Linked DNA regions of Homo sapiens. The main gene of each other region encodes a partner of the protein of the gene in region 2 in a complex. Each region holds a gene or a part of one and is shown on either strand. Other genes may lie near its edges. A codon is read from its position in the direction of its gene.

What was found.
Region 1: the proteins of POGLUT1 (region 2) and NOTCH1 are in contact, whole or in part, in a crystal structure (PDB 5UB5), measured with the Homo sapiens proteins. Residues at the interface, in NP_689518.1 of Homo sapiens: Met103 (codon at 613), Phe104 (codon at 610), Pro105 (codon at 607), Ser106 (codon at 604), Arg107, Asp133, Gly170, Pro171, Ala172, Val173, Trp174, Pro178, Thr179, Gly180, Thr214, Asn239, Gln240, Ala241, Val274; in NP_060087.3 of Homo sapiens: Asn454, Glu455, Cys456, Val457, Asn459, Pro460, Cys461, Gln462, Asn463, Asp464, Ala465, Cys467, Gly472, Glu473, Phe474, Val485, His486.
Region 3: the proteins of POGLUT1 (region 2) and F7 are in contact, whole or in part, in a crystal structure (PDB 5L0S), measured with the Homo sapiens proteins. Residues at the interface, in NP_689518.1 of Homo sapiens: Met103 (codon at 613), Phe104 (codon at 610), Pro105 (codon at 607), Ser106 (codon at 604), Arg107, Arg132, Asp133, Pro171, Ala172, Trp174, Pro178, Thr179, Thr214, Asn239, Gln240, Ala241, Val274; in NP_000122.1 of Homo sapiens: Asp108, Gln109, Cys110, Ala111, Ser112, Ser113, Pro114, Cys115, Gln116, Asn117, Gly118, Gly119, Cys121, Gln126, Ser127, Tyr128, Arg139, Asn140.

Annotation. Positions count from the first base shown.
Region 1 is NC_000009.12:136,493,955-136,501,055, forward strand, and holds the end of NOTCH1 (neurogenic locus notch homolog protein 1 preproprotein), read right to left. Parts: intron 6,894-7,101; coding exon 6,598-6,893; intron 5,306-6,597; coding exon 5,158-5,305; intron 5,043-5,157; coding exon 4,945-5,042; intron 3,605-4,944; coding exon 2,117-3,604; 3' UTR 479-2,116; downstream 1-478. UniProt on the Homo sapiens protein: Functions as a receptor for membrane-bound ligands Jagged-1 (JAG1), Jagged-2 (JAG2) and Delta-1 (DLL1) to regulate cell-fate determination.
Region 2 is NC_000003.12:119,464,038-119,472,051, reverse strand, and holds the start of POGLUT1 (protein O-glucosyltransferase 1 precursor), read right to left. Parts: upstream 3,090-8,014; 5' UTR 3,031-3,089; coding exon 2,946-3,030; intron 2,233-2,945; coding exon 2,142-2,232; intron 744-2,141; coding exon 600-743; intron 1-599. UniProt on the Homo sapiens protein: Dual specificity glycosyltransferase that catalyzes the transfer of glucose and xylose from UDP-glucose and UDP-xylose, respectively, to a serine residue found in the consensus sequence of C-X-S-X-P-C.
Region 3 is NC_000013.11:113,108,690-113,115,790, reverse strand, and holds part of F7 (coagulation factor VII isoform b precursor), read right to left. Parts: intron 5,102-7,101; coding exon 4,941-5,101; intron 2,040-4,940; coding exon 2,015-2,039; exon of another isoform or gene 1,945-2,014; coding exon 1,831-1,944; intron 1,790-1,830; exon of another isoform or gene 1,023-1,789; coding exon of another isoform or gene 1,007-1,022; intron 832-1,006; coding exon of another isoform or gene 724-831; intron 132-723; coding exon 1-131. UniProt on the Homo sapiens protein: Initiates the extrinsic pathway of blood coagulation. Serine protease that circulates in the blood in a zymogen form. Factor VII is converted to factor VIIa by factor Xa, factor XIIa, factor IXa, or thrombin by minor proteolysis.

The DNA.
Region 1 (7,101 bases), on a different chromosome or scaffold from region 2:
GCCAGAGTCCTCCCTGTGGTCTCCAGCCCGTAGAGGGGTCATGCCACTGCCTCAAGGCCCTCCCTATGCAGCCCCCTGCCTGCTGCAGAGCTCCCTGAGGGGCTGTCCCCAGGATGGCTGGGTGGGACCTTCATCCCTCCGAGGCTGAGAGGAGAAGAGCCCCGAGCTGCCAGGAGGGCCAGACTCACGCATGGTGTCCTGGGAGCCGTGTCACCCCAGGCACGAGCCCCACCTCCCATAGGGCTGCAACCCCCTTGCTGCTGTGTGTCCATCTCCCTACAAAGGGCCTGGACCAGGCAGGCTGCAGACACCATGGAGTCCCTGGAGGCAGCGTGGTCCCCACACCCCCGTGGGCCAGGACTAGGCAGCCTCACCGTCACTCTCCCAGCAGAAGGGGCCCTCGACTCCTGGCTCCCTCAGAGCATAGCAGCCCTGCCTCCCTCCCAGAAAGGGAGCCAAAGGCCAGAGCAGAGGGGAGTGGAAGCCAGATCACCATCAGTATCATTTTTATTGCAAATCAGTTAACAAAAAAGATGAAAAAAATACATCATCTACAGTTCCTCATGTAGATCACTTTTAAAGTCTTTTTCTGTAAACTACACTCTATTTTATAAAACACAGTAAAAATCAACATCTTGGGACGCATCTGGTCATGCCCCCTGGGGATGGCACCACGCGGCCCCCGTAGAGCCGGGGGAGGCTGCCCTGAGGAGTGCAGGCGGCACGGCAGCGGAGCGTCCCCAGTGCATGGGCGGCTAAGGCTCCCCGAGCTGAGCCAAGTCTGACGTCCCTCACTGGCATGACACACAACAGACTCATTCATTAAGATTTTTTAAACAAAATCCACCTTTAAAAACATATTTACAGACATTTTTTCTGCCATAGGCTATACTTGGTATTGCAAAAATCTGCTCCTCCCAAACTAGGAGGGGTGGCCCAAGGGCAGCCCCCGCCTCCCTCCAGCCCCTGCCCGACCGCATGCCCCCTGCCAGGGCTGCGGGGACAGGACCAAAGGACGCAGCCCACGGCGTTGCACAGCTCAATGTGCCCGGCTCTGGCAAGTCTCCTACAAAACACGGGAGCCCACGGGGGGTCGGGTCCCGCGAGCTGGGGCCCAGGCTGTGTTGCTGGAGCATCTTCTTCGGAACCTGGGGGACACTGTGCAGGCTGAGGTGCTGGGGCCGCCACCGGGGTCAGCCCAGGCAGTGTCTTTCCCCAGAAAAGGGTAGGATGCCTCCGTGTGTGACCCAGGCAAGTGCCACAGTCCACACATCTCATGTTTGACATGCATGATGCCTACATTTCAAGAACGGGCAGGGGGCCGGGGTGGTTCTGGAGGGACCAAGAACTTGTATAACCAACGAACAACTACATAATACTGAACCTGAAACAAAGATTCATGATTGGTACCATGGGTGCACTCTTGGCATACACACTCCGAGAACACATTTTCACAAGCATGCTTGCAAGAAACCATCTAAAACACATGGCAACATCTAACCCATATGCTTTCACTTGTTTCCTATTTCAGATGCAAATTAATCCGCGTGCGGAAGGTGAGCCAGCTTTGCCTCCGTTTGCCTCTGGATGCAGCTTCTCCTAACAGGCAGGTGATGCTGGTGGAGCGGCCGGGCTGGCTTGGGGTTGGGTGGGCGTCGGGGAAAGGGCGCGGCCTGGACGCCCCAGGAGCTTTTTGGACTATGCTCGTTCAACTTCCCTTCTCCAACATCATTTCTTTTTGGATTTTGAAAAAAGGAATCAATAAATAAATGGCATTTATAAATCATGAATCTTTGTTTATATTTTATAAACACAGAAGAATCTTTTCATCCTACGTAGGAAAACCCTGGCTCTCAGAACTTGCTTGTTTTCTCAGAATAGATAAAAGTTTCTACCTGGGGCCAGATAAAACAGTACATATAAATAAAAAGGCAGTGTTTCTGTGTAAAATAAAAGTACATAAATAAATACTAAAAAAAATTAAAATCCTCGTTCTTATTTTGTATAAAAACATGTGTTTTAAAAAGGCTCCTCTGGTCGGCCCTGGCATCCACAGAGCGCACACAGACGCCCGAAGGCTTGGGAAAGGAAGCCGGGGTCTCGTGGGGCGCGCCGTTTACTTGAAGGCCTCCGGAATGCGGGCGATCTGGGACTGCATGCTGGTGGGAGGGCTGGAGACGCCCTCGGACCAGTCGGAGACGTTGGAATGCGGGGACGAGCTGGACCACTGGTCAGGGGACTCAGGGGACGGGGTGAGGAAGGGGTGCTCAGGCACCTGTAGCTGGTGGCTGGGGGTGTTGTCCACAGGCGAGGAGTAGCTGTGCTGCGAGGGGGGCGTCAGGAACTGGGCTGCGGTCACGGGTGGGACCAGCGAGGATGGCAGCGACGTGGGCAGGGCGGGGCTCTCCTGGGGCAGAATAGTGTGCACCGCCAGGCTGCTGGGGCCCAGTGGCTGCACGTCTGCCTGGCTCGGCTCTCCACTCAGGAAGCTCCGGCCCAGGTGGCCGCTGGCTGCTGAGCTCACGCCAAGGTGCGGCTGTGGTGGTGGTGGTGGCGGCTGCAGGCTTTGCTGCTGCTGGATGTTTGCTGGCTGCAGGTTCTGCTGCTGCATCTGTAAGTTTTGTGGCTGCACCTGCTGGGTCTGCACCAGGTGAGGCTGGGTGGCCAGCCGGGTGCTGGGCAGGCCCTGGTAGCTCATCATCTGGGACAGGGCGCTGGCAGCAAGGCTACTGTGCAGCGGGCCTACCATGCCATGCTGCAGGGAGGGGGCCTGTGTGCTCAGGGGGCCTGGTGCCACACTCCCCCGCAGAGGGTTGTATTGGTTCGGCACCATGCCGCTCTGCAGCCGGGACAGCCACTCGCATTGACCATTCAAACTGGTGGACCCGCCCACAGTGAAATTCAGGGCCCCTCCGCTGCTGGAGCCCAGGACGGTGCTGGTGCCAGAGGCCACAGGCAGGTGGGAGAGACGAGGTGGGCCAGTCTCAAAGGCCAGCCGGCCGCCCCCACCCAGCGCCGCCATCTCGGGCTTGGCCGCCACGTTCAGGTGCCCGATGCCCAGGTGGGTGTCGGGCATCCCAGGCAGGTGGTTGAGGGGCACGGACGGAGACTGCTGGAACGGGGAGGGCAGCAGTGGCGGCGAGGCCACGTCTGACAGGTAGCCATGGGGTGACTCCAGGGAGTCCACGGGCGAGAGCATGCCGGAGCTGTCCAGCAGGCAGCCCTTGCCGTCCTGGGACTTCTTCCTCCGTGCCTTGAGGTCCTTGGCCTCCTTGCTTCCACAGGCCAGGCCTTTGCTGCTGGGCTTGCGGACCTTCTTGCCCTGCACGCCGGGCTTGAGGCTGCCCAGGTAGCCGTTGGGCGAGCAGAGCGGGGGCGACAGGGTGGGCGTGCCCCCCAGCGGGGCTCCGTGCAGCTGCGGGCTGCGCACCAGGTTGTACTCGTCCAGCAGCCTCACGATGTCGTGATGCATGCGCTCCTGTGCGATGTCGCGCGGCAGGCGGTCCATATGATCCGTGATGTCCCGGTTGGCAAAGTGGTCCAGCAGCACCTTGGCGGTCTCGTAGCTGCCCTCCCGGGCGGCCAGAAACAGGGGTGTCTCCTCCTGGGGGATGAGGGCGGGGGCCGGTGAGGGGGGCCAGGCCAGGCGTGGGGACCCTCCCCAAGGTTCCATCACCAGAGGAAGCAGCAGTACAACCTCCTCCGCGGGGTGGGGGCAGGCAGGCTGCTCCTCAGGACCCCACCCCAGCGTCCTGCAACCACCTAGCCTGACTCTTGTTAAATGTTAAGGCTTTGATACATCTTCTGAAACCCACCCAGAGAGGGGATCTGTGCAGTCCTCTACCCTAGATCAGCGGGGCTCCACCTCTATGGGGGGGTCACAGACCCCACTGAAAATCTAACCAACTGCAGGCCCTCTTCCCTGCCCCCAATAAGGCACAAAAGGAAATTCCTGGAGCGGTTCAGAGGCACCGGCGAGGGCACCAGGGAGGGAGCTCGTCATCTGGACGGCCATCAAGCCACCCTGGTGGCCACCAAGCTCCTTCCTGGGGTCTCCTCTGTGCGGTGGACACGTCACAGGTCTGGGTGAGGCTGCTGTGTGGGAGTGGGAAGGGGCTTCCCAGGCCTTGATGCCCTCTGGGGCCCAGTCTCTGTGGGGCCATGCTGCCACGGACTGGGGAGCGCCTGGGCCAACATGCCCCGGTGCCCAGGCCCGCTGTGTGCCCTCACCCAGGAGGGAGAGACGCCTGAGCCTGACATGCCAAGGGGGCAGCAGGAGTTGGGGGCGGGGGTGGGGGTTCTGGCGGCAGGGAGGTGGGGGTGTCTGCACCTGTGCCCTGAGCACCCAGGGGAAACCAACAGCAGCTGCAGGGCCAGGAGCTGCAGGGCCAGGATGAGGGCTGGGGGTGGCTCCCCTTGGATATAGTCCTGAGACTTCTTCCTCTGAGCCTTGAGGTCCTTGGCCTTGGTGAACACACCAAGAGGCCCCGCCCCGCAGGGAGCTGCCGCCACGCGTGTTCTGGCTCAATCTGCACCACCTGCGTCACCACATTCCCATCCCCACCCCCGCCTGGTGACAGCTGGGGACAGAAGGTGAGGTCCAGGTGACGGTGACACAGCAGTGGCAGCAGCAGCGTTCCCCACGCCAGGCTGTGTGCCCCGCCATGACTGCCGCCCAGGAGGGTAGGGCTGGGTCTGAGGGGCGAGCCGCCGTGTCCTGACAGCTGGACCTGCACTTGGAAGGGCTCCATAAACGGGGGCTGAAGGAAGGCAGGAGCACTAACGAGGTGCCCGCATCATGCGGGTGGGGCCCACATGCGGGCCCAGCGACCCTCGAGACCCTGTGGGTCAGGCCCTTGTGTCCCTGCGCCCCGTGGGTTTGGCCCTCACTTCTCTGTGGATTCAGCCCTCACGTCTCCCCTGGCATCCCAGCCTCGCGCTCACCCTGTTGTTCTGCATATCTTTGTTAGCCCCGTTCTTCAGGAGCACAACTGCGGCATCCACATTGTTCACGGCGGCGGCCCAGTGCAGGGCGGACTTGCCTGCGTGAAAGAAGCAGATGGGGTAGGTTGGAGACCAGCTGGAGGCAACCCAGTCCCACCCGTCCCTGTGGCGGTCCCGCCCCACGACAGAGCAGCCGTGCCCCCGTGGGCTCACCCAGGTCATCTACGGCGTTGACGTCGGCGTGTGAGTTGATGAGGTCCTCCAGCATGCCCTCCACGGCCAGGCGGGCAGCCAGGATCAGTGGCGTCGTGCCATCATGCATGCGGGCATCCAGGTCTGTGGCTCGGTTCCGGATCAGGATCTGGGCAACAGGGAGAGGCTCAGGCGGGTGCTGGGCAGACGTACACCGATGCCTCCTGCCCAGAACGAACGCCTGGACGGGAAGCCCCACTGTCTTCCGGACACAGACGAGACCCTCCTGAGATCGGCACGGCCGGGCAAGACGAAACGCCATGGGGCTGCCCCTGAGGAGGGGCCCGGATGGGGGCAGGGGCTGTGCTGCCCACAGACAGGCCCCTTGGTGACAGTGGGATCCATCGTGACCACGTGTGGCCTCATTTAATCCTCACTGTGGTCCTAGCTGCCATGACCACCTACAAAACAGAGAGGTCAAGTCCCTGCCCCCAACGGCGGTTACAGCTGGCACTCAGGAAGCCGGGCTCACGGCCCTACAGCCGTCTCAGAACCGCCGAGCTAGTGTCCGGCTCTGCCCAGAGAGGGGGTGGGCAGCCCTTGTAATGCAGCCGGGTCTTGGCATCTGGCAGGAGGAATGGCCCCTGCTCACTGGCGGGTGCAAAAGGCAACTTGGCCTGATTCCTGCAAAGCACCTGGGAACTTCCACATCTGTGCAAAGAAGGCAGCTGAGAGAGGCACACACCAAACCCGCACGGGGCTCCCTTCCACGCTCTTTCTGCTCACCTACATTTATTTCTGCGAGATGACAATGTGTCACCTGAGCTAAGAAATCAGGAAATGAGAAGCTCTGTGGTAACTCCCCGGGCTGTGCCCATCTGAACCTGCTTGCTCCAGGGCCGCCTGGAGCCTGGGGACTCGCAGCAGGGGTGACTGCAAAGGCAGCCCCTGCCAGGGACACTCCCTGGAGACCCAGGCATCCAAATCCCTAAATCCATTCTTGCCACGAGCTCACCGGCAAGCTGAGCCCTAGGTCTGCAGGCACCGAGCGGCAGCCTCTAAACCCTGCTTCTCACTGCCACAGGCTACGCCGGCAGCCAAGGTTGAGGGAGGGGCGGGGCTGCGAGGGGCTGCAGCAGTGGAACCTGGACCTTGAGCAAGGCCCACAACCCTGATGGAGCCTGTTTTGCTGGGGGTGGGGAGGTGCTGCCTCACTCAGCAGATCCCCCAGGCCTCCTGCCAGACCCGCCTCTGCCTGACTTCCCTGGAGAACACAGATGGGCCCGACGCCCTCCCCCTCGCACCTCGCTGACTGCGAAGGTCCCAGGTGGAGGCACCAGTTGTCCCGGACTCAGCTGTGCTCGGGGTCAGGCTCCCAGGGCCACGTAAGCCTGGCCACTGCCCCAGACCACCAGGCGGCCCTGAGGAGGGCAGGTGGGCACACAGGCAGCCACTGCCTACCTGGAAGACACCTTGTGCGTCGGCAGACACAGCCGCATGCAGCGGGGTGCGGCCCATGTTGTCCTGGATGTTGGCATCTGCGCTGGCCTCCAGCAGGCGCTTGGCGGCATCAGAGCGTGAGTAGCGGGCGGCCAGGTGCAAGGCGGTCTCGCCCGTGCGGTCTGTCTGGTTGTGCAGGCTGGCGCCCTGGTAGATGAAGTCGGAGATGACGGCCGGCGCGTCCTCCTCTTCCTCGCTGTTGCCCGTCTCCAGGCCGCCCCCGCTGCAGGAGGCGATCATGAGCGGGGTGAAGCCATCTGCAGAGGCAGAGACGGGTGCTCAGTCTGGAGGGCCGGTCCCCAGCTGCAGCCCAGGGGGAGGGGGGCAGCAGCCCCAAGCTCAAGGGGCCACGGTGTGGATGCACCACCCAGCACTTGGTGGCCCCGTGCACACAGCCACCAAGGGGCAGCTGAAGTCCGCCTGGGCTGCTCAGTGGACAGAGCCGAATCCAGCTTAAACTCCTGG
Region 2 (8,014 bases):
GGCTAGTGTAATTTGCAGCACTAGTTACTCCTCTTTATTTATTTATTTTTTAATAGACAGGGTCTCACTCTGTTGTATTATTTGCCACTGCCGGATTATTTGCCATAATCCAACTCCTGGGCTCAAGTAATCCACCACAAAGTGCTGGGATCACAGGTGTGAGCCACCACCACCCCATCTAGTTACTCCTCTTGACTCTACCACCTCCCCTTGAATATTCAGTATCTAGAACTACACTGGCCGATGACAGACATTCAACCAATTCCTCTTCCTCCTTCAGCCTAGCTCCCTCCTGCTAGGCCTGCTAGGCCTCATCAGCCTGTGTCCTGCCGCTACTATATCCCAGGGAAGGAGCAGAAGAGGCAGAGCCACCACCAGTACAACCAGTGATGAACCAAGCCTCACAGAGGAGACAGGCTTTGAGAGGAGCTCGCAAGAAAAATTCCCAGGCAAGGAGAAGAGCTCGTCACTATTTCATAGTCCGCCTGAAATGTGAGGAGGGATCTGCTTGTTAGTCCCATGAATTGGCTCCTCTATAAAAGGGTATCAAGCCCATATGTAATAAAGTCAGAAGATATATCTACCTCGTTAACTCTTACCTTGAGGGGAACATGCAGTCATTTTCCCGGTACAGTCTGTTCTTAGTGATCTGATAGTGGGTCCCTAGCTTCCGTCTGACTACCTCTGCCATCATCTTCCTGGAGATGCCTCCTCGGAAAGGAGTTAGATCCTCTTCTATGACACTGGGAAAGAATGGGAGTCATCAAGGAAAGCAGGCCAAGAGAGTGGTGCCATTCCACCTACTTCCTAAGTGCATTTAGGTTTCGTATTAGAGAACACAGTAAGTGGAAGGAAAGAATCGAGAGTGAGAATGAGCAGCTCTTCCCTAGAAGCCCTGTAGGTAATCTGAAACATCAAATGCAATAAAGCAATAAAAAGTAAAAAGCGGGTCAATGTCTCTTCTTCCTCCTTCCATCTGGATTGCCCCTCCCTTGGCAGTTCTGTATTTCTCTTTCGCTACTCATGCCACACCTGTGTCCTTCTAGTCACTTCAGTCCTCCTGGCATCTCCTCCCAATCCCACAGGAGGTGAAGTTTACGCCTTACAGTCTAGCACTGACTCTCTTGTTCTGGTCTGTCTGGTCCACACTCTCCCCCACAAGCCCTTACTCTGGTAGCGTGACAGCAGTAACCAAAATTACACTATTTTGTATTCCTTTTAAAGTGAGTGCATAGTAAGTTTTCAATAAGTATCATAAGCATCCAAGGAATTTTTTGAGGAGTCAAAAATAACATAAAAAGGAGCTTAAAAGACCCTGTTATTTAGCTGATGAAGAATCTGAGACCCAGAGGAGTTGAAGTGGCTCGGCACAGGGGTAACCAGTGGGAGTACCGGCACCAACACCCAAGTCTGTTTTCAGAGTTATCTTTCTACCATACCTCATCCCGGCCCTGATGTGCATTCTCTCTCTTTTTTGAGACGGAGTCTCACTCTGTCACCCAGGCTGGGGTGCAGTGGCATGATCTGGATTCAATGCAACCTCTGCTTCCCGGGTTCAAGCGATTCTCCTGCCTCAGCCTCCCGAGTAGCTGGGATTACAGGCACGTGCCATCATGCCCAGCTAATTTTTGTATTTTTAGTAGAGACAGGGTTTCACCATGTTGGCCAGGCTGGTCTCGAAATTCTGACCTCAGGTGATCCACCTGCCTTGGCCTCTCAAAGTGCTGGGATTACAGGCATGAACCACCATGCCCAGCCTGATGTGCATTTTCTAAAGATAACCATCAGGAAATTTAGGACTAGATTCAGCGATAGATGGGTTTATTTCCTCAACAATATTTATCGAGCACGCACTGACAGCTAGCACCAGGGAGACAACAGCAAATAAGACACAGACCCTGACCTCAGGAAGCTTGCAGCCCAGTGGGAAAAACAGATGCACATGCACTGAATCCCGCAGTGAGTCAGTGGTTAGGTTGACACCACCTGAGCCTTTCCCATGCGAGAGCATTTTTATTCCCCAGAAATAGAAAAACATCCTTGCCTTTCTGACCACTGCAACCAAAATCTCTCAAGGATGTTAGAATACTTCCTGTGACAGCAACTAAACTCTCAAAGACACATCAAAGAAAAGAACTCACCCATGGTAGCAGCTGCAGTTTTGACTTGAACATGGTTCGTAATTCTCCAAAGACCTGTTAATTTGGTCAATAAATACTTTCCATTTTGAACCTTTAAAAAGTGAAGTAAATGAGAGTTAAAAAAATTTTCCTGAATGTTATTTGCTGACACCACACCAACAGAAGAAACAGAAGACCAAAACTTTCAGAAATCCCCTTCCCATCCCACTGATGGAAACGAAACGCTAGGGAGGAATTTTTGTGTGTGCAACTCCCACGCTCACGTCAAGTCTGTTCCTCTATCCGGCTGTCAGGTGTCCAAGAAACTGGAAAATTCCCAAGCTTAATGCTCAACCCTCAGAATGCTATGGATAGTGACGCGGACTCTCACTTTCTACTAATCAAATTGAACTCCACAAAGAGGATCAGTTAAAAGCTACAGACATTAAACCCCTCTTCTCTTCTGGCAACGCATATACACACACGCTCGCGCGCACGACATTTGCCCCCATCCCCGACCCCTCAGTGTTTCAGGCAGGTCCAGAGTAGCCAAGCACGGGCCACGCCTCCTGCGGGTGAACGGGGAATTCCCTCTCCTCCCTGTCATTCTGAATTCCGGGGAATGGGTTACTCTCCAGGGTCCAGAGCAGGAGCAGAGACCCCGGCACCTCACTCTCCGCCGCAAGGCGCCCCGGTGCCTTCTGCCCAGCTCCGAGCTACAGCGGCCACGGCATCTTCCCGGGAGCCGGCCGCGCGGGGGAGCGCCTCGGGACTCCGGCCAGACCCCGAGCCCAAGGGGCAGGCTCGGCACTGCCCGGAGCCCACCTGACTCCTTCTGGCGGCCCTGCGCTGAGGGCAGGAGGAACAACAGCAGCCAGAGCCGAAGCGGCGAGCTAGCCCACCACTCCATCGCCGGCAGACCTACTGCAGATTCCCCGCTGCGGCGCTGGCGGAAGCGCGGCCCCGCACAAAGATGGCCCGGGAGCCGCAGCACGTGGGCGGCGGGTCGCCCCGCACAAAGATGGCCACCGTGGCCCCACCACCCTTCCTCCAGTCCCCAGCCTTGAGGCGGAGTTTCCCTGAGAAGGCTGCGCCGGGAAGGTGGGGAGGATAAACGAATGGACCAGTTGCCTATCCTCCCTCCCTGGCACCCCTGGGAAAATAGGTCTGCAGCCAGAAAACTGAAGGTCAGAGAGGGTATGTTTCACGGTTAGTGGCACAACCAAGACTTGGCATAGAGCCTAGGCCAAACAGTTCTTCTCTTGACGTCAAATTGCCTCTTATCAAATAGCATAAATTTGTTGAGCATGTGTGTGTGTGTGTGTGTGTGTGTGTGTGTGTGTGTACAGCACGGTTAGACCCCAAAGGTTGCAATTAGCATAGCAGGGATCCCTTTGTAATAGGAATTTATAACAGTTGGGGTGACTTAGACGTAGGAAAAAAGATCAATGGTGTTAAATAAAGTTTATGGGAGGTCGTTGTTTTGGACAGAACTCTGGCACTAGGCCTCAAGAGAGCAGACAAAACCAGAATGGAGGCAACTTGTCCTAGGTGCTGCGTAATTAAACTCAGCTTTAAAAGGGGTCAGTTTTCCAACAAATAGGAGAAGGGGCCCATATACCTGAGCTGGCATGATAAAGAAGTCCCCTCTGATGTAACTCTTTGAGGAAAGTAACTTCAAAATGACCAATCTGCTTTTTGTTCCTTATTTCTGCTTTCTTCAGCCCTTTTCTGCCTATAAGCCCAACCCCTTCTGCTCAGCTCATTAGAACACTTTTCTGTTTTATAGATGAGATGCTGCCTGATTCATGAATCACTAATAAAAGCCAATTCGATTTTTTTTTTTTTTTGAGACAGAGGACAGTCTAACTCTGTTGCCCAGCCTGGAGTGCAGTGGCACAATCTTGGCTCACTATGACGTCTGCCTCCCGGGTTCAAGCAATTCTTCTGTCTCAGTCTCCCGAGTAGCTGGGATTACAGGAGTGTGTCACCATGCCCGGGTAATTTTTGTATTTTTAGTAAAGACAGGGTTTCACCGTGTTGGCCAGGTTGGTCTCAAACTCCTGACCTCAGGTGATCTGCCCACCTCGGCCTCCCAAAGTGCTGGGATTACAGGCGTGAGCCACCATGCCTGGCCAAGAACTTTAAACTAAATTTGATGAAATTTTGTTTCTTGACAGTGGGCAACATGATACTGGACAATATAGGTATATAGTATAGTACAGGTATATATCTTTATACAGGTATATATAGGTCAGTGTAGATATATTTAGTAATCATAGAACTACAAATATTTATCTATTTTCTTTTTTTTTTTTTTTTTTGAGATGGAGTTTCGCTCTTGTTGCCCAGGCTGGAGTGCAATGGTTCAATATCGGCTCACCACAACCTCCGCCTCCTGGGTTCAAGCAATTCTCCTGCCTCAGCCTCCTGAGTAGGTGGATTACAGGCTTGCGCCACCACACCCGGCTAATTTTGTATTTTTAGTAGAGATGGGGTTTCTCCATATTTGTCAGGCTGGTCTCGAACTCCCGACCTCCGGTGATCCACCAGCCTCGACCTCCCAAAGTGCTGGGATTGCAGGCGTGAGCCACTGCGCCCAGCAATATTTATCTATTTTCTAAAATGTACATGGTTATATCCCTAAGCCTTGTGGAAATATGGAAATACAGGGAAGTACAAGATCAAATCTGTGCTCCCAGGAGTTTAGAACTAGTAGGGAAGACAAATATGCTTCCTTAGAGATAGTTTACAATTTAAGGCAATAGTTAAGTGCCACTGGTTTCAGTGGAGGAAAAGATCAATATGAAGTGGAAATCTGGAGAAAGGGGTAGGAGGGGTATATTTTGTACTGAAGAAAAGGAAACGTTACAGTTAAGGAATATTGTGCTGGAGTCACTAAAAATATGGGAGCCATAATTTGCAGAAGGTGGGGATCAAATTTAGCTTGACAGTAGTGGAGGCTTTAGGATGCACGTTAAGGAATGGTGGAAGAGAAAATAATGTTGATTACCTAGGAATGGGCCGTATCGGTCACATATTACACCCATATGGGCATTTGGTCTATATTCCACCAGGGCAGAACCACCCAGTTTTTGTATGAGTGAGGCTCACTTTGGGTGAACAGACAGGAAAAAAAATGTATATCCAAAACTATAGCATATTTCTTCTGGAATCCAAATGAAACTTTAGTCAAAAATTTTTCTACTTCCAGGAAGGTGTGCAGTACAGTCATGTGTTGTTTGACAATGGGAATATGTTTTGAGAAATGTGTCAGGCAATTTTGTTGTGTGAACATCATAGATTATACTTACACAAACCTAGCTAGTATAGCCTACTACATACTGAGGATATTTGGCATAGCCTATTGCTCCTAGGCTACAAACCTATTCAGCATGTTACTGTACTGAATATTACAGGCAATTGTAACACAATGGTAAGTATTGGTGTATCTAAACATTGAAAAGGTACAGTAAATGAGTAAAAATGATACACCTGTATAAGGCACTTACCATGAATGGAGCTTGCAGGACTGAAAGTTGCTCTGGATAAGTCAGTGAGTGGTGAGTAAATGTGAACACCTAGAACATTACGCTACTATAGATTTTATAAACACTGTACAGTTAGACCATACTAAACTTATAAACACGTTTTTCTTTCTTCAGTAATAAATTAGCTTATTGTAACTTTTTTACTGTACAAACCTTTTTTTTTCAACTTTTTGACTTTGTAATAACACTTAGCTTAAAACACAAGCACATTGTACAGCCATACAAAAATATTTTTTCTTTCTTTCTTTTCCTTCCTTCCTCCCTCCCTCCCTCCTTTCTTTTCTTTTCTTTTTTTTTTTTTGAGACAGTCTCGCTTTGTTGCCCAGGCTAGAGTGCAGTGGTGCTATCTCAGCTGACTGCAACCTCTGCCTCCCAGGTTCAAGCAATTCTCGTGCCTCAGCCTCCTGAGTAGCTGGCATTACAGGTGTACACCATAACACCTGGCTAATTTTTGTATTTTTAGTAGAGACAGGGTTTCGCCATGTTGGCCAGGCTGCTGTCAAACTCCTGGCCTCCCAAAGTGTGGGGATTATAGGCATGAGCCACTGCATCCGACCTATTTTCTTTATTTCTATCTTTATTCTATAAGCTTTTTTCTATTTCTAAAATGTTTTATTTTGTTTTTTACTTTTTAAACTATTTTATTGAAAACTAATATGCAAACACACACGTGTGTGTTTGGGTCAGGCCTATGCAGGGTCAGGATCATCAATATCACCATCTTTCACCTCCACATCTTGTCCCTCTGGAAGATCTTCAGGGTCAAGAACACACATGGAACTGCCATCTCCTAGGATAACAATGCCTTCTTCTGGAATACCTTCTGAAAGACCTGCCTGAGGTTGTTTTACAGTTAACTTTCATTTTTTTAAAATAAGTAGAAGGAGTACAATCTAAAATAACAATAAATGTATAGTATAGTAAATATATAAACCAGTAACAAAGTAATTTATTATCATTATTTAGTATGTTATACTGTACATAATTGTATGTGCTATACTTTTATACAACTGGTAGTGCAGGTTTGTGTACACCAGGATACATTGCACTACAACATAAAGACAGCTACATCATTAGGCAATAGGAGTTTTTCAGTTTTATTATACTCTCATGGGCTCACCATCATTTATGTGGTCTTTCATTGAAACATCATTATGGGACACATGACTGTATTTAAAAATGAAAAAAAAACCAGAATGGTTGTACGAGTACTGGAAGTACAGTTTCTACTGAATGAGTGTTGGTTTTGCACCATCATAAAGTTGAAAAATTGTGAGTCAAACCATCCTAAGTTGGAGACTTGTGTGTATTCCTAAGTGACAGCTCTGTGGTACATTAGGACATTAGGAATATTTGGGAATATTAGCAACTTTACTGGTTTCGATATCAGTCATTCTGGCTCTAAATTCTGGTTCTGGCTCTTATTAGCCAGGCTATTTTCTTTTTTTTCTATTATTATTATTATTATTTTTGAGACAGGGTCTCTCTCTGTTGCCCAGGCTGGAGTGCAGTGGCACAATCTCGGCTCACTGCAAACTTGACCTCCAGGGCTCAAGTGATCCTCCCACCTCAGCCTCCCAAGTAGCTGGGACTACAGGTGTGAGCCACCATGCCCGATTTATTTTTTTACTTTTTTCATAGAGACAAGGTTCCACTATATTGCTCAGGGTGGTCTCAAACTCTTGGGCTCAAGTGATCCTCCTGCCTTGGCCTCCCAGTGTTGGAATTACAGTCATGAGCCACCCTGCCTGGCCAGGCAGGCTATTTTCAACAAGCTACTTAACTTCTCTTAACTTCAGTTTCTTCTGTAAAATAATAACCATAGTAGAAGCTATCAAAATGTGAGATTTAAATGAAATGTGTAAAGCTACTAATCCAGTGCCTGACACAACAAAATTCTTAATAAAGGTTAATCATTCAATCAATACAAACAACTTTCTATTAAGGAGATTAAAATCTCTGGAGTGAAAGATTACACAAATGCTCCTTTTGACACTCTTATCTTCTTCTAATACCAAACTATTGTCAATTCCTGAACTCAAGATGACGTTGCTCACAGATCTTTACCTTTTTATCTGCCACTTCTCCAGGAGGACTGCCATTCTCCCACAAAGCCCCTATGCCTTTGTGGAGTCTTGGCTGAAACCCCAAGCTCTCTGCAAAGCTTTTCTTGGTATTGACATCACCACCATCCCACAGAATTCGTTAGTGTTACATGCTATCTCTGGACCTTGGACACACTTTTAATATTGTAACAAATGGTAATTACTGTATTTTCTTAGTGTCGCCTCTCTTCCACTAGACTCTGAGCTTTTGTGGTATTCGCTTTGTAACCACAGCATC
Region 3 (7,101 bases), on a different chromosome or scaffold from region 2:
GCAGGACACCCCGTCTGCCAGCAGAGAGTACCCCTCGTGGCACCGACAGGAGCGCTTGGTGCCCGTGTGGTCACTGCAGTACTGCTCACAGCCGCCGTTCTCGTTCACACAGATCAGCTGGTCATCCTTGTCTGGGGACAGGAAGGGGACACCCTGAGAGGGGCTTCTGGGGGTCAGCGAGAGCCAGCCCCCGGGGTGGCCATGCCCTGGGTCAGCAGTGGTGTTCTGCCTGGAAGGTGGCACTGAGCTGTGGGTGACAGAGCCTGAGCTTGGCACCACCTGCTCCGTGGACTGATCCAAAGGACAAGGCGTGGATCAGAGGAGCCACATGTCTGAACAGCCTTGCCAGTGGCTGGCAGTGCTGGCTGCGGTTGCATTTGGGGGGTGCCTGGCTGGTGGGCAGTGGCCTCCAGGGTGACCACTCTTCCGAGCAGCTGATGGGAGCCTGGGGGAAAGTGAAAGTCCAATGGGGATGGTAAAAGTGTCCAAGGGACTTTCCAATCAGAGACCCAACTGACGAGAGGACCAGAGAGCTGAGACAGTTCTCCAAGCTGGCCTCGTACCACCGTGAGCCCGCCTGGGGACAGTTAGTCCCAGCACTGGTCATGGGCTCAGACAGAAGAAGCAGAACCGGCAGCCTGACTTTGGTTGACATGGGCAAGGGGAGTGGCCCTGAGCAAGTCCAGGACTCCGGCGGGAAGGCCTGCCCTGCAGGATGCACACCAGGGCTGCTGGGCACCAGGGCTGAGCAGAGATCTCCAGGCATTCTGGACCCAGATGACCAGCAGGAAGCCTCTCTCTTCAGCCTCCTCCAGCTTGCTGGGCTCTCTTCTGCTTAGAGAAGAAAATGGCTGCTGCACAGGAGAGCTCATTCAGTGTAAGAATGTGGTCTTGGGTGGTCAAGGATGAACTGCTGTGCCAGAGAAAGGGTAGCCTTTGCCTTGGCTCCTGGGAAATGACCGCTAAGCCCTTGGAAGGTCTTGCCTGAGGGAATGTTGGTGTTTACCTGGGCCTTGAGCCATGCTGGATGGTCTAGCTGACAATGTGATGTATGGTGGGGCCTTGGGCCGCACTATCGGCGTAGCCTCTGGAGGGGCTGAGACTGAGGTCAGCCATGCGGGTGGTCAGCTGGGTCTATGTGATTGAGCCCTGATAAAACCTCTGGACACCGGGGCTCGTAGAGCTTCCCAAGTTGGCAGTACTTCCCACGTCTCGTCACACGTCATTCTGGGAGAATTAAGGACTGTCCACATGACCCCACAGGGAGAGGACAAGGGGAAGCTTGTGCCTGGTCCCTCTGCAGACTTAAGCCTGCATCCTTTGCTGTAATAAACGGTACCTGTGAGTGTATCCACTTCAGTGGATTCTATGAGTCCTTCTAGTGAATTACTGAACCCAAGGGAGGTTGGGGGCCTCAAACTTTGTGATAATTTAATATTCAGATGGTTAAAAAAAAAACAAACCCCTCAAACCTTTGTAATGGAAAGTAGAGAAGGGGAAGTTTACCAAGCGGTCCTGCGTGGTGGGATGTGGAAGTGGGACAGGGACACAGGGACTCTCAGCTGGGCCATCTCGAGGGCTGAGAATTGCCCAGGGCCGGGAGCCCAAGGGGCCACTGAGTCTGATAATCAGAACCTTGGGTCCCTGTCAAAGACCTCAGACTGGAAGGGATTTCAAGGTCACCTAGACCAATTTCCAACTGGGGCTGAGCCCTGAATGCCCGGCCTACACACCCCACCAGGTTGTGCACCCTGCAGCCCGGTTGGCCAGGCCACCTCCACCAGCTCCCCAGGGCCCTCTGCAAATATGGGACCCAAAGTGGGGCCTTACGCGTCTCACAGTTCCGGCCCTCGAAGGCAGGGAGGCAGAAGCAGATATAGGACTGGAGCTGGTCCTTGCAGGAGCCCCCATTCTGGCATGGACTTGAGGCACACTGGTCCCCATCTGTGGAGTGGGCTGGTGTCAGTAAGCTGAGAAGGGTTGCAGGCAGGACTGGTGGTGATCATCCACTCACCACTGTAAGAAATCCAGAACAGCTTCTGAAGGAACAAGAGAGCAAGCCTCGTGAGATGCACCTTCACCAGAGCACCCAACGGTAAGCACTGGACACACCATGAACTGGGGTTGGGGGACTTGGACCTGGGTCTGGCGGGGTGGGCTCAGGAAGCCAGACTTTCCTCTGGAGCTGAGGTAGGTTTCTTCTAATCTTGGCCCCTCCCCAGGACATCTGGAACTATGGGTGACCACACATTTCCTGCTCCCAAGTCAGAACACCCGAGGTTCAACCCTGACTCTTCTGTCGCTGAGCTGTGGACCTGGGACGAGGTACACAGGCTCTGAGCCACAGCTCCACCTCTGACAGGGTGGCCACACATACGGGGAGAGGGTGCAGTAGCAGATGCAAAATATTCCACAAACAGCAAAAGCACTCCACAGAAAAAAGTGATTGCTGAAGAAACTGTTGGCCACCTGAACTTAAACTCACGGGGTGCTGTGAGAATACAACAGATGAGAAATGCTTTCAAAACTAGGTGTATAAAAATGCTAGGCATGACCATCCTCAATTTGTCTGGAAAGGGTCATGTTAGCCTTTGCCTCAGACAGCTGGACCTCCTGTGAGTGTGAGGCTTCTTTGAGCATGAGGTGTCCTGAGTGTGAGGTGTCTTGTGCATATGAGATGTGGTTCTGTGAGTGTGAGGCATCCTGTGAGTGTGAGGTGTGGCGACCTGTGAGTGTGAGATGAGTGTAAGGTGACCTGTGAGAGGGAGGTGTCCTGTGAGAATGAGATGATCTGTGTGAGGTGTGACCTGTGAGTGTGAAGTGTGCCCTGAGTGTGAGGTATCCTGTGAGAATGAAGTGATCTGTGAGTATGAGGTGATCTGTGTGAGGTATGGTGACCTGTGGGAGTGAAGTGTGCCCTGTGTGAGGTGTCCTGTGAGAGTAAGGTGACCTGTGAGTGTGAGGTGTCCTGTGAGAGTAAGGTGACCTGTGAGTGTGAGTTGTCCTGTAAGACTGAGGTGACCTATGAGTGTGAGGTGTCCTGTGGGTGTGAGGTGACCTTTGTGAGGTGTCCTGTGTGAGGTGACCTCTGTGAGTTGTCCTGTGGGTGTGAGGTGACCTCTGTGAGGTGTCCTGTGGGTGTGAGGTGACCTGAGTGTGAAGTGTGCCCCGTGTGAGGTGACCTCTGTGAGGTGTCCTGTGGGTGTGAGGTGACCTCTGTGAGGTGTCCTGTGAGTGTGAGGTGACCTGTGAGAGGGAGGTGTCCTGTGAGAATGAGATGATCTGTGTGAGGTGTGACCTGTGAGTGTGAAGTGTGCCCTGAGTGTGAGGTATCCTGTGAGAATGAAGTGATCTGTGAGTATGAGGTGATCTGTGTGAGGTATGGTGACCTGTGGGAGTGAAGTGTGCCCTGTGTGAGGTGTCCTGTGAGAGTGAGGTGTCCTGTGAGAGTAAGGTGACCTGTGAGTGTGAGGTGTCCTGTGAGAGTAAGGTGACCTGTGAGTGTGAGTTGTCCTGTAAGACTGAGGTGACCTATGAGTGTGAGGTGTCCTGTGGGTGTGAGGTGACCTCTGTGAGGTGTCCTGTGTGAGGTGTCCTGTGGGTGTGAGGTGACCTCTGTGAGGTGTCCTGTGGGTGTGAGGTGACCTGTGAGTGTGAAGTGTGCCCCGTGTGAGGTGACCTCTGTGAGGTGTCCTGTGAGTGTGAGGTGACCTGTGAGTGTGAAGTGTGCCCCGTGTGGTATCTTGTGTGAGGTGTCCTGTGAGTGTGAGGTGAAATGACCTGTGGGTTTGAAGTGCACCCTGAGTGTGAGGTGTCCTGTGTGAGGTGACCTCTGTGAGGTGTCCTGTGGGTGTGAGGTGACCCGTGAGTGTGAAGTGCGCCCTGAGTGTGAGGTGTCCTGTGAGTGTGAGGTGACCCGTGAGTGTGAAGTGTGCCCTGTGTGAGGTGTCCTGTGGGTGTGAGGTGACCTGTGAGTGTGAAGTGTGCCCCGTGTGAGGTGTCTTGTGTGAGGTGTCCTGTGAGTGTGAGGTGACCCGTGAGTGTGAAGTGTGCCCTGTGTGAGGTGTCCTGTGGGTGTGAGGTGACCTGTGAGTGTGAAGTGTGCCCCGTGTGAGGTGTCTTGTGTGAGGTGTCCTGTGAGTGTGAGGTGACCCGTGAGTGTGAAGTGTGCCCTGTGTGAGGTGTCCTCTTTGAGGTGATCTTGGAGTGTGAGGTGACCCGTGAGTGTGAAGTGTGCCCTGTGAGTGTGAGGTGTCCTGTGAGTGTGAGGTGACCTGTGAGTGTGAAGTGTGCCCTGTGTGAGGTGTCCTCTTTGAGGTGATCTTGGAGTGTGAGGTGACCCGTGAGTGTGAAGTGTGCCCTGTGAGTGTGAGGTGTCCTGTGAGTGTGAGGTGACCTGTGAGTGTGAAGTGTGCCCTGTGTGAGGTGTCCTCTTTGAGGTGATCTTGGAGTGTGAGGTGACCCGTGAGCGTGAGCTGGAGAAAGTCCCAGGTCCCTAAGTGTTGTTTCTCCCCGACACGTGCCCTGAGGAGGTGCCGCTGGTGGCATGCTGTGGGCCAGCTTCTCACCACGTCCCTTCTGCGAGCCGCGCGCGTCTGCGATGCGCAGGCTGCCCTGGACCCTTCGGGGACTGGGGGGACTCCCTTGGGAAGTTAAGGGGGACACCCTAAGTGTGCTTTGCAAATCGTATTTTCTGATGTGAAAACCGGCATGCGCGGTGCGGCCGCACGGGGAGAGCGCGTGCCTGGGGGTGGGGGGCATCGCCCAGGAAAGCGGAGTCACCCCGGGCGGAAAGCGACCCCCGCAGAAAGCGCCGCGCGGGCGCCGCTGCGTGTTCGCCGCCCACAGCCGCAGCCAAAGAGACGCAGGCGGCCCCACGCGGCCTGGTTCACCGCCGCCTGCAGTGTCCGCGGCGCGGGGCGCCCCGAGGCTGGGCTCACCGTCCTCTCCGCGTCCTTGAAGATCTCCCGGGCCTCCTCGAAGGAGCACTGCTCCTCCTTGCACTCCCTCTCCAGGGAGCCCGGCCGCAGCTCCTCCAGGAACGCGTTGGCGCGCCGGCGCCGGTGCAGGACGCCGTGGGCTTCCTCCTGGGTTACGAAGACTGGGAAATGCGAGTTCCGTGAAGCGCCCACCGCGTGCCCCGCCCAGTGCCTCGGAGACCGCCCCACGGCCCACGCGGCGGGGGCATCGCAGGTTCCCGCCCGTCCTGGAGGAGGGGAGCGGCGCTGCTCGCGGGCCTGGCTGGGTGTCCTCCCTGCCGTGCTCCCGGGTCAGCCACCCCCGTCGCCCATCCTTCCCGGCCTGGCCTCTCTGCTTCCGGGGGCTGATCCCGAGGGCGCGCTCGGGGGCACGCGCGGAAGCCGGGCCGAAGGGGGCTGCGGGCGCCGCCGCGTAAACGTGAGGCTGCGGGTCGATGCCGGCGAGGAGAAGGCGGCGCGGCCCCGGGTGCCGGGCAACCCCCTGGGGCCCACGTGAACCGCGCGTGGAAATCCGTACAGCCGCCCGCGGAAATCCAAATCCCTCGTCTCCACCCGCACCGCGTCTCCGGCGGCCAGATCCGCCTTCCCCAGGCCTCCGTCCTGGTCCGAGGCGCGGCCCCTGCCCGGCTCCCCCGACAGCGAGCCCCGGGCTTCCTCGCCAGCTCTTGGCGGTCCTGGGCTTCTGCCGCCTTCCCCGCCTCCGCTTGGGGCCCCTCTGTCCCCCGCGACCCCTGAGAGCTCCAGACCTCGCGCGGATCCTCCTGGGGCCGGTCCTGAGAGCACAGCCCCCCGCCGCAGCTCCTGGCCCCTCCGTAACCCCGACGGTTACTTGTGGACAAACAGGACCGCCGTTTTGCCCATGGGAAGACGGGGCTGGTGAGGGCCAGAGACGCCCAGGGCGAGGCAACCCCGTGCGCTCAGCTCCGAGCAGGCCGCTCTTCAGGACGCCCTACAGCCGAGGGGACCGTCACCCGGGAGCGCCGTGAGCTGTGGGCACCACGCGGTGGTGGAGAGTGACCCCCGCCCCGGGGCGGCCGTGCTGCCCGAACCTGCCTCAGCCCGCGAGGGGAGACGGGCCTGGGGGCAGGCGGGAGAGGGAGGCCCCGGGAGGAGGCGAGCGGGGCTGAGAGGACGCGCGGGAGGGGCTCTGGAGAGGCCGCAGGAGGCGCGTTCCGGAGGGACGACCTTTGCTGGGAGGACGAGGCCTCAGGTGGACGCTGTGGGCCGGTGGGCAGGAGCCCGAGTTCTGCAGGAGCGGCCTAAATTGGTTACTGAGCGCGGAAGAAGGGACGGAAGGTGAGCGCTACTGGGCCACGTGGGGCCGAGAGAAAGGCCACTGCCTGTTTTCTTTAAAATCAGTTTCACACGTCGACGCCCCTAGAGAACTGGTCTGGTTTGGAAGGAGGCTGAGGATGCAGGCGGGGACACCAAAGAATCGGGCTCAAGGAGGTGGGAACTCACGGACTCCGAGTCCTCACAGGAGGTGCCCTGGGCGGCAGGAGTGGGAGGGGAGGCCCATGTCCCTGCAGTCCCCGACACCCACGCTCCCGGGACACCCACGACCCCCGGGACACCCACACCCCCGGGACACCCACGCCCCCCGGACACCCACGCCCCTGGGACACTCACACTTCTGGGATACCCACGCCCCCGGGACACCCACACTCCCGGGACACCCACGCCCCCGGGACACCCACACTCCCGGGACACCCTCGCCTCCGGAACACCCACACTCCCGGGACACCCTCGCCTCCGGAACACCCACACTCCCGGGACATCCACTCCCCCGGGACACCCACACTCCCGGGACACCCACGCCCCCGGGACACCCACACCCCTGGGACACCCACGCTCCCGGGACACCCACGCCCCCGGGACACCCACGCTCCCGGGACACCCTCGCCTCCGGAACACCCACACTCCCGGGACACCCTCGCCTCCGGAACACCCACACTCCCGGGACACCCACTCCCCCGGGACACCCACACTCCCGGGACACCCACGCCCCCGGGACACCCACACCCCTGGGACACCCACACTCCCGGGACACCCTCGCCTCTGGAACACCCACACTCCCGGGACACCCACGACCCCCGGGACACCCACACCCCCGGGACACTCA